Homo sapiens: one gene and its partner. The protein of the gene in region 1 interacts with the protein of each later gene in a pairwise test. Each region holds a gene or a part of one and is shown on either strand. Other genes may lie near its edges.

The links. Proteins that work in one complex are often made in the same cells at the same time.
Region 2: the proteins of C18orf54 (region 1) and GLE1 interact in binary tests that used the Homo sapiens proteins (3 or more experiments, as listed by UniProt).

What each region holds. Positions count from the first base shown.
Region 1 is NC_000018.10:54,374,088-54,379,314, forward strand, and holds part of C18orf54 (lung adenoma susceptibility protein 2), read left to right. Parts: intron 1-126; coding exon 127-197; intron 198-4,086; coding exon 4,087-4,159; 3' UTR 4,160-5,227. UniProt on the Homo sapiens protein: Might play a role in cell proliferation.
Region 2 is NC_000009.12:128,527,721-128,532,947, reverse strand, and holds part of GLE1 (mRNA export factor GLE1), read right to left. Parts: intron 4,338-5,227; exon of another isoform or gene 3,948-4,337; intron 284-3,947; coding exon of another isoform or gene 257-283; intron 1-256. UniProt on the Homo sapiens protein: Required for the export of mRNAs containing poly(A) tails from the nucleus into the cytoplasm. May be involved in the terminal step of the mRNA transport through the nuclear pore complex (NPC).

The sequences.
Region 1 (5,227 bases):
TGAAAATTAGAATTGTTTGGAAATGTAGAAAATATTTTTTAATGTTTTAATCACATTTTCAATACCATTTAATTTTGTAGTTATATAATTTTAATATTTTGTTATATTTGGTGTTTTTAATAATAGGTTTCAGAAGATGATTTCTCTAAATTACAGTTGAAGGAAAGTATGATTCCTATTACTAGGTCACTTCAGAAGTAAGTATTCTTTACTAATATGGATACAAATCCATCTTAGCCATTTCTTTGACATATGTAAAGTTACAGGGTAGAAGTAAGTAGTTTTAAGAGTAGCACTACTAGGCATATTTAAGCTTCTTGGAGCACACTGTTTACACTAAAAAACATTGTTTTCTTTTAAACTTGTGCTTTTTCCTATTCAAAGTGTTCTAAGGACCTAATGAGATAGCCTTAGACCTCTAAAATATAATGGATATGACTCATTTTTGAGTAGTAATAGCAACAATTTATGATAGTATTTTTGTGAGTATCCTATAACAGTAACTTGTATGAAATGTGTTTTCATATATTCTCTCTAGAATAAATTTAATAATAAATGGATCGTGATTTGGAACATCATTACAGAAATCTAAAGTAGATATAATGACCTGGATATAAAGATAGGTCTAATTTTCTTAGTTACAGTGTCTTAAATAATAAAATGGAGAAAAATACAAGTTGTTTCTATAGTCATGATATTGACAGAAGAGAAGGGTATTTATTTTGGAGTTTGTTGTGTGACTATGAAGTGTCCTCAGAAGATGGAATACTGAACTTAGGAAATACTGAGATTAAAAGTTTCTACTCTAGTCACACCATTTCACTTGGCTACCTTTTGTACTTTGAGAATTTGCTTAGGCTTCTGTGATCTAAGGAACTGGTGGAAAATAAAACACTAGACATGTAAACTTACGAATCTAATTGTCACAAATGTGTATATAGTTTTCATAGTTAAAATGTATCATGTATGATTACTTTTTTCTCTCTACTTAATTTATTATCTTTAGGGTATAAATAATGCACCTTTGTTTGTAGCTTGCCATAGTACTGGGGTATAATGTTTCATACCTAATAGAATTCAGTGAATAATGATAGTAATAGCTAACATTGAATGTTTACCAAATTTCAGTATTCTAAGTGCTATTGAATATAATTCATGTGATCTTCACAACCTTATGAAGTAAGTACTATTATTATTTTCATAATACAGATCGGAGAATAGGCATGGAGTAGTAAAGTAACTTGCCATAGCTAGTAAAAGAAGCGGGATTCAGATCAGGTAGTGTGATTTGAAAGTCTGTATTTTTAACACTACTCTCACTAATGATAGTGATGAATTATTCATTGAGACTAAGAACAGGGCCTCAGTTGATCATCTAGTATGAAGACTTCATTCTGCTTTAAAATTTGAGGTGAATGACCATAAGTTTTCCATTGCTCTTTAAAGCATTATACTGCACTTGTCACAGACCTATATGTGTTTTCTGAGTTAATGTACATATCCTAGATGTTTTTCCTGGTGAAAACTAACAGTGGATTGTAAGTCATTTAATCACCACAAAAATCGATACTGATCTATAAGTGCTTTTACCATTTGCTAGAATTTTTTTAATAGTAACTTTTTTTCTACTATAAGCAATCAATAGTCTTACCTGTATATGGAGTTTCATTTTTAGAGAGAGTAAGTTTTATGTTTTGTTAGATGGCCTTTAGTTATTAATTCTGTTGTATTAACTGGAGCAGTCTTAATTTGTCTTTACATTTCTAAAGTATTATCAGTAAGACGTTTGTACTGTAATGAAGTAAGCTTAGACTTACAAAAGTTATTTTCAGTCTGTAGATTAACTGTTTTAAGGACAATTTAAATTTAATTACATCTCAGAATTCCTTTTTCCAGGCGGCAAAATATTCTGGTTAGGTATATGGTCATCTTTTCATACTTCAAATATTTCAAATGTATTTCAAAATTTACAAAATATTTCCAAAATATTTCAAAAGTTACTGATTATACTTTGTAGGCTTTATTGGCCTTTCCTAAGGTAAAATCCTATTATGGCTCTTTACATTCCTCAAATAACAGTTTTTGTTTTTAATAATTTGGATGGCTATCCAGTTTTAAGATATATTTCATTAGCCATAGGGAACTGTAAGCTAGTAGTCTGGCCTTGTCTAGTCCCTTAAATACTCAGTTTTCTTATATTCTTCAATTAGAAATATGTGTTCTCTAGGAAGACTCATTGGAGCTGGGATTACAGGTGCATGCCACCATGCCCGGCTAATTTTTGTATTTTTAGTAGAGATGGGGTTTCGCCATGTTGGCCAGGCTTGTCTCAAACTCCTGACCTCAGGTGATCCACCTGCCTCGGCCTTCCAAAGTGCTGGGATTACAGGCACGTGCCACCATGCCTGGCTAATTTTTGTATTTTTAGTAGAGACGGGGTTTTGCCATGTTGGCCAGGCTGGTCTTGAACTCCTGACCTCAGGTGATCCACCCACCTCGGCCTCCCAAAGTGCTGGATTACAGTACTGGCCACCACGCCCAGCTGAATATTTTAAAATTTTAGTTATTTTACCTCTGATTGGTTAGTAACTTTGGGTGAATTATTGTCACTTAGTCAATGAAGGTGGGAATCTCAGAAATTAACTGAAGTTGCCAAAAAAGGTGAGAGAATTGAGAGTCTTCTTATTACATTTGAGTAAAAGTATCCAAGAAGTGTATAGTACAGGGAAATAGATATACATGCAGTAAATAATGCTACTAGTTTCCTTCCATCTCCTTGTCCTGGGTAAAGTGGAAGATGCAGTTTATTATACATTTATTGAACAACTACTGTGTGTTAGAGACTATAGAATAGAGTGTTGTAGTCATTACCTTTCTGCTCACCATAAATGGAAATTACTAACATTGGAGGTTATTACACAGCTTATGTTTTTTTTTTAAATTTAATTTTGTTTTTTTGAGATAGAGTTTCGCTTTTGTTGCCCAGGCTGGAGGCTGGAGTGCAGTGGCGCGATCATGGGTCACTGCAGTCTCCACCTCCTGGCAAGCGATTCTCCTGCCTCAGCCTCCTGAGTAGCTGGGATGACAGATGCCAGTCACCACGCCTGGCTAATTTTCTGTTGTATTTTTAATAAAGATGGGGTTTCACCATGTTGGCCGGGCTGGTCTCGAACTCCTGACCTCAGGTGGTCATATCATCAGGTGATATGCCCATCCCAGTCTCCCAAAGTGCATGGATTACAGGCGTGAGCCACTGCTTCCGGCCCTTCCTGCACATCTTAATTACTATATTGTCACTCTGTTTTTCCTTAATATCCTTCTTATTTATTAAAGATCTGAAATATGACTAATTGATGTTTTCTGAGTGGTCCTCCAGGAACTGAAATATAGGGGAGAGAAAAACTGGAAAAATATAAATTAGAGAAGGCTTGGAAAGTTAAGGGCCTCTTTTCCTGGTTTGAGGAATGATTGAGTTTTCTCCACTGAGACCTGCAATACAATCTTGGCATTATTTCAGAGAAAAATCTAGGTTGTTGGTATAACAACACATTATATAGACTTATTGGAGTAGTTGGCAGCTTCCCCTATGATCAATAAAAATGAGTTTTGTTCAGATCTGTAACTAATCCTTAAATGCTATTTAAAAAATAGCTATCTTGAATGTAAATGTTAAAAATAATTTCTGTATTTTACTTCTTAACTAATATACACAGGATACCAAAAGCAAAGGTGTCATTTCACAGAGCTGTAGTGAAAATTACTTGAAAAAAGTGTTCTTGTTAAGTGTGATACAACTGATACCTATTGTTTCTTGTTAGGGCACTTGGCAGACTATCTTAAAAAAAGTTAATGTCAAAAAATATAATTTTTAAAGTAAATGTTTATAGAACTTTAGATAAATTATTTTAACCCTCAATTATTCAGATCTCAAGGTTTTATAAGGAATAAGTCTCAAAGTTTATATAAATTTACTTCTCATACCAATTTTGAAGTTAATAGTCAACTTTATTTATTTTTTTGCTGTCTGCATTGGCTATTCAGTTCTTAATAACTGGTTTATAATGTGTTTTATACTTTTTAATGAAGGGCTTTGCACCATTTATCTCGCCTGAGAGACCTGGTTGATGATACGAATGGAGAACGGTCACCGAAAATGTGAAGAGGAAAATGAAACTGTCACCACAATGAATAGTCACCACAGAACAAATAGGCATTTTTTCTATTACTTAAACTGACAAAGTAAATATAAGCCATACATTATTTTGTGGTTGGTTCAAGGATTATATATTTCTAAAACACTAAACTTGAAAATACCCATAGGTTTTGGGACCTATCTTTATTTTGTGCCAACATACTAGAATGTGAACTGCAAGGACCCACAATATATCCTGAAGTCTTACTTTCGCCTTCTGGCCAGCAAATGTCTAATATTTAAAGATGGATGACTTCTGTTCTTGAAGCTTACCTGGATTTAACCTTCTTCAGCATCCTCAACATTTTATTACCTGGTTCAGGATCATTAAGAAACTTACTGGTTTTTATCCAAAATCTTTTACGTTAAATAGACTTTTTTAAAGATATAGTTAGCATCACTTTTAAACAGCTTAAAGGAATATCAAAATTGTTATTGTGTATCTCATCTATAAGGAAGTCTGTTACTTTGAAATTTTCATAAATTTAATATTTAAGATACATTGTATTTGAAAATTGCATTAATAGTGGGGTGATACTGTGTTAAAAGGAATGTTGTGTTGTGACATTCAAGAGAACCTCCTCATTTAATTAGTACTTTGATTCTGTGTAAGATAATCTTGGTAGTGCTTGACAGTTTCCAAACCTTTTTTTGGAGAGATATTTAAGAATTTAATATTTTGATATTAGATTGTTTCCCAGATTTTAATTTTGGGGTTGGCTCAAACTAGTGAAAACTATGACTCAATGGCCAATTGCTTTATCAAATTTGATAACTAAAACTTAAAATGAATATGGAAAATCAGAAAGCAACTCTATTTTAGAGCTATTTTGTAAGAGTTGTGCTTTCTTTAACACCATCTGTAGTCTTAAGTTTGTCTCTAGCTAGAACTGAACAAAGCTCTATAATTTTTACCAAGCACTTATTATTAATACTTCTTATAAGTAGTAAGCATCTTTACTAACACAACTGAGAATTAAGTCATAAAACATAACTAATACAGCACATTACTGCCTGACAAAATTAAAGAGTACT
Region 2 (5,227 bases), on another chromosome or scaffold:
AAAAACCTTCTAAAGGATCTAACCAGCTCATGATGATATGCCCCCTTCTCAGGACTTGCCTTCTTCCGTCCTCAGAGACACAGAAGTGGATTCGTAACAGCTATATTTGTACCAAAGATTTTGTGTGCTCCACCCCCACACTAGCTACAGTTAGATTAGAGGCAGTCAAGCTGAGCCAGTCAGTCAACTAAGAGTCACTTCCTTGAGGTAGCTGGCCCTGTGTCACATACACTCACAAGCAGTGGGGGCTGCGTACCTGCCATGAAGACCAAAGAACGGCAATCTATAAAATAAGAATGGAGATGTAGAGAGGACAGATGAGATGAGAGAGGAAAAAAGAACTAAAGTTTCTAGCTCCTGAGACCTCACCTCATTCCTGCCACTGGGTTCTGTAGGATATTTCTTTATCTTTCCAATAAATGCTTTTTTTTTTTTGCTTAAGCAGATCTGGGCCAGCACTTTGGGAGGCCAAGGCAGGCAGATCACTTGTGGTCAGGAGTTCGAGACCAGCCTGACCAACATGGTGATACCTCGTCTCTACTAAAAATGCAAAAATTAGCCAGGTGTGGTGGCGGGTGCCTGTAATCCCAGCTACTCGGGGAGGCTGAGGCAGGAGAATCGTTTGAACCCAGGAAGCGCAGGTTACAGTGAGCCGAGATTGTGCCACTGCACTCCAGCCTGGGTGACAAAGCAAGACTCCATCTCCTCCCTAAAAAAAAAAAAAAAAAAAAAAAAAAAGCAAAGCAGATCTGAATTACTTTCCATTACCTGAAGTCCTGAAGTCAATGTTTTAATTAATACAGCATCTCCAGTTGAGAAATACCCTGTCAAGTTCCTAATCACTTCAAGAAATGTCACAAAAGTTTCAGAAATATCCTGTCATTCAGTTCTCTTATCAAAAAAAAAAAAAGCCAACCATGTGGACCCCACTGGCTGAATGCCCCATCTAGCATCTAGCCTCTCTCCATACCTCTCTAGGTAGGAGGAAAGTTAGTTAGCTTCCAACCCTAGACTGACGTGGCCTCCCCATGCCACAGCAACATCATGTCCTTATTTAAGATTTCTTCTAATTCTAACCACTCATGGACATCCATCTTTTTTTTTTTTTTTTTTTTTGAGCTGGAGTCTCACTCTGTCACCCAGGCTAGAGTGCAGTGGTTCGATGTCACCTCACTGCAACCTCTGCCTTCCGGGTTCAAGTGATTCTTCCACCTCAGCCTCCCAAGTAGCTGGGACTACAGGTGTGTGCCACCACGCCCGGCTAATTTTTGTATTTTTAGTAGACACGGGGTTTCACCATGTTGGCCAGCCTGATCTCAAACTCCTGACCTCAAGTGATCTGTCTGCCTCATCCTCTCAAAATGCTGGGATTACAGGTGTGAGCCACCACACCCGGCGACATCCACTTTTTTTTTTTTTTTTGAGATGAAGTCTCACTCTGTCACCCAGGCTGGAGTACAATGGCACGATCTTGGCTTACTGCAACCTCCGCTCCTGGGTTGAAGTGATTTTCCTGCCTCAGCCTCCCGAGTAGCTGGGATTACAGGCGCCTGCCACCACATCTGGCTAATATTTGTATTTTAGTAGAGATGGGGTTTCACCACATTGGCCAGGCTGGTCTTGAACTCCTGACCTCCTATGATTCACCCACCTCAGCCGCCTAAAGTGCTGGGACTACAAGTGTGAGCCACTGGGCCCAGCTGACATCCACCTTTTTTTTTTTTTTTTTTTTTGAGATGGAGTTTTGCTCTTTTTGCCCAGACTGGAGTGCAATGGCGTGATCTCAGATCACCGCAACTTCTGCCTCCTGGGTTCAAGAGATCCTCCTGCCTCAGCCTCCTGAGTAGCTGGGATTACAGGCATGCACCACCATGCCCAGCTAATTTTGTATTTTTAGTAGACACAGGGTTTCTCCATATTGGTCAGGCTGATCTCGAACTCCTGACCTTGTGATCCACCCGCCTCAGCCTCCCAAAGTGCTGGGATTACAGGATTACAGGCGTGAGCCACTGTGCCCGGCCCACCTTTTTTTTTTTTTTGAGACGGAATCTCGCTCTTTCACCCAGGACGGAGTGCAGTGGTGCTATCTCGGCGCACTGCAAGCTCCGCCTCCCGGGTTCATGCCATTTTCCTGCCTCAGCCTCCGGAGTAGCTAGGACTACAGGTGCCTGCCACCACGCCCAGCTAATTTTTTGTATTTTTAGTAGAGACAGGGTTTCACCGTGTTAGCCAGGATGGTCTCGATCTCCTGACCTGGTGACCCGCCAGGCTCGGCCTCCCAAAGTGCTGGGATTACAGGCGTGAACCACCGCGCCCGGCCCACCTTTTTAAAAAAGAGAAGAATTAGGTGATCCTTCCCTCCTATTCATTAAACGCTTACTGAGCACTAACTAGAGCATGTTCTGTGTCTGGCTGGACTACAAGATCTTAAAGGACTTAAAGTCTTGATGGAGACAAAGGGAGAGTCAGGAAATGTGTAGAAAAATTAAAAAAGGCAAAGATATAGACTAATTCGATGTGGTGAGTGAAAGAGAGGCAGCAGTCATAAAGATGACTCCCAGGTTTCCAGCTAAGATTACTGAGTAGATAATGGTGCTACTGATTACTCAAGAGAAAACAGCAGACAAAGAGGGCTAAGGAAGATGATGGGTTTGGATTTGAACACATTAAACTTGAGGCAGCTAAGAGACATATAGGCAGAGATGTCCCTCAGGTAGCTGAAGCTGGAGAATCTGAAGCTCAGAAGAAAGGAATAAACCAGAGGTAGGTTTGGGAGTCATCAGCATTCAGGTAATGTTTGAAGCCCTGTAAGTAGAGAGAACGAAAAGAACTGCAGGATAAGAGTAGATCCCAGCCGGGCACAGTGGCTCATGCCTGTAATCCCAGCACTTTGGGAGGCCGAGGTGGGCAGATCATGAGGTCAGAAGATCGAGACCATCCTGGCTAACACGTTGAAATCCTGGCTAACACGTTGAAACCTGGTCTCTACTAAAAATACAAAAAATTAGCCGGGCGTGGTGGCAGGCGCCTGCAGTCCCAGCTACTCGGGAGGCTGAGGCAGGAGAATGGCGTGAACCCGGGAGGTGGAGCTTGCACTGAGCCGATATAGTGCCACTGCACTCCAGCCTGGGCGAAAGAGCGAGACTCTCAAAAAAAAAAAAGAGTAGATCCCTAGGAATCACCTACAATTAGAGTGGGGTAGAAGACTAAGAAACCCACAAAGGGGAGAGAGAGAGAGGGAGAGAGGGAGAGAGAGAGAGGAAAGGGTAGTGAGGGAGGGAGGAGAAGAACCTGGAAAGTAATGGCACCATGGAGGCCAAAGGAGTAGAGTTGCACAGAGAAAGCAGCAACAGTGCCGAACAGAAACCTCAGGAAGATCAGCAAACACTTAGAAGACATAGGATCAAGGGAGACTCATGTTAGGATGTGAGGGGCTCACATATATTTACAGGCTGAGAGAGAGGAGCCTATAAAAAGGAGTAATCACAGAAAACAGGAAAGGCAATAAACGATGAGGCAGTCTGACAGGAGACAGGAAGGAAAGGGAACAAGGGCAGAGGTGGAAGGGTAAGCCCAGCAGCAAGGACGCCTCATCCAGTGACACAGGAGACTAAGAGGTAAATGTCACTGTGCAGTGGTGGAGGGGCTCTGAGGAGCTCACACTGGATGTCTCCATTTTCCTGATGAAGGAGGTACTGACCCTGTCTGCAGTCAACAGAGGGGAACTGGGAACGGCCATCGAGGTGTGGAGTGGCTGTCCAGTCAACCTCTCTTGCTTTGCTGTTGCTATCAAAGGACACAGCACTTTAAATTCCAAAAAGTGATATGTTATTTATTTATTTATACCTTGCCCTGTTCCAGAAAGAATTTCAGGCAGCAAAGTCATATGTAAGTTTTGCTGGACTGCCTATCAAGGGCAGGAACTGAAATTTTCCTATGCTTTCCAGGCAATGAGAAGTGAGTCGGGGAACGGAACCCACGATGCGTCAGAGGAGTGTTCCAGTTGCACACACACTCCCCAGCCACCTGGCAGCTCAGTCTATAATCTGGAGGCTTCCACATCTACAGCTCCATACAAATGAACCTCTGGTTCTAAAGAAGTTTCTTCCTTGTCTGGTTCTCACTTTCTAAACCTCAGTCTCTGGAGAGAAAAGGAGTCCTGGAGGATGAACAAGGCGAGCTTGGAGTAATTTGGAAAAGCTAATGTTGTAGGACAGAAGCAAAGCCTGCAAGTCACAGCCTAGGTTCCCTGAGTGATGTTTTCAGCAGTAAACTGCAACTTCAAAGCTAAGAGCCATCCTAATAATTTGCCATAAAAGGTAGCTTGTTAAAAATGAGTCAAAAAGGCCGGGTGCAGTGACTCACGCCTGTAATCCCAGCGCTTTGGGAAGCTGAGGCGGGCGGATCACAAGGTCAGGAGGTCGAGACCATCCTGGTTAACACGGTGAAACCCCGTGTCTACTAAAAATACAAAAAATTAGCTGGGCGTGGTGGCGGGCAGCTGTAGTCCCAGCTACTTGGGAGGCTGAGGCAGGAGAATGGCGTGAACCCGGGAGGCAGAGCTTGCAGTGAGCCGAGATTGCGCCACTGCACTCCAGTCTGGGTGACAGAGCAAGACTACATCTCAAAAAAAAAAAAAAAGGGGGCTGGGCACAGTGGCTCACGCCTGTAATCCCAGCCCTTTGGGAGGCCGAGGCAGGTGGATCACCAGGTCAGGAGATTAAGAACATCCTGGCTAACACAGTGAAACCCCGTCTCTACTAAAAATACAAAAAATTAGCCGGGTATGGTGGTGGGCGCCTGTAGTCCCAGCTACTCAGAAGGCTGAGGGAGGAGAATAGAACAGCGTGAAGCCGGTAGGCGGAGCTTGCGGTGAGCCGAGATCACGCCACTTCACTCCAGCCTGGGCGACAGAGCAAGACTCTGTCTCAAAAAAAAAAAAAAGAAAAAAAGAAAAAAAAAAGAGTCTTCTTTTTTTGTTTTTGAGACAGAGTCTCGCTCTGTCACCCAGGCTGGAGTGAAGTGGTGTGATCTCGGCTCACTGCAATCTCCGCCTCCTGGGTTCAAGCAATTGTCCTGCCTCAGCCTCCTGAGTAACTGGCATTATAGGTGAGAGCCACCACACCCAGCTAGTATTTGTATTTTTAGTAGAGACAGGGTTTCACTATGTTGGTTAGGCTGCTCTTGAACTCCTGACCTCGTGATCCGCCCACCTCGGCCTCCCAAA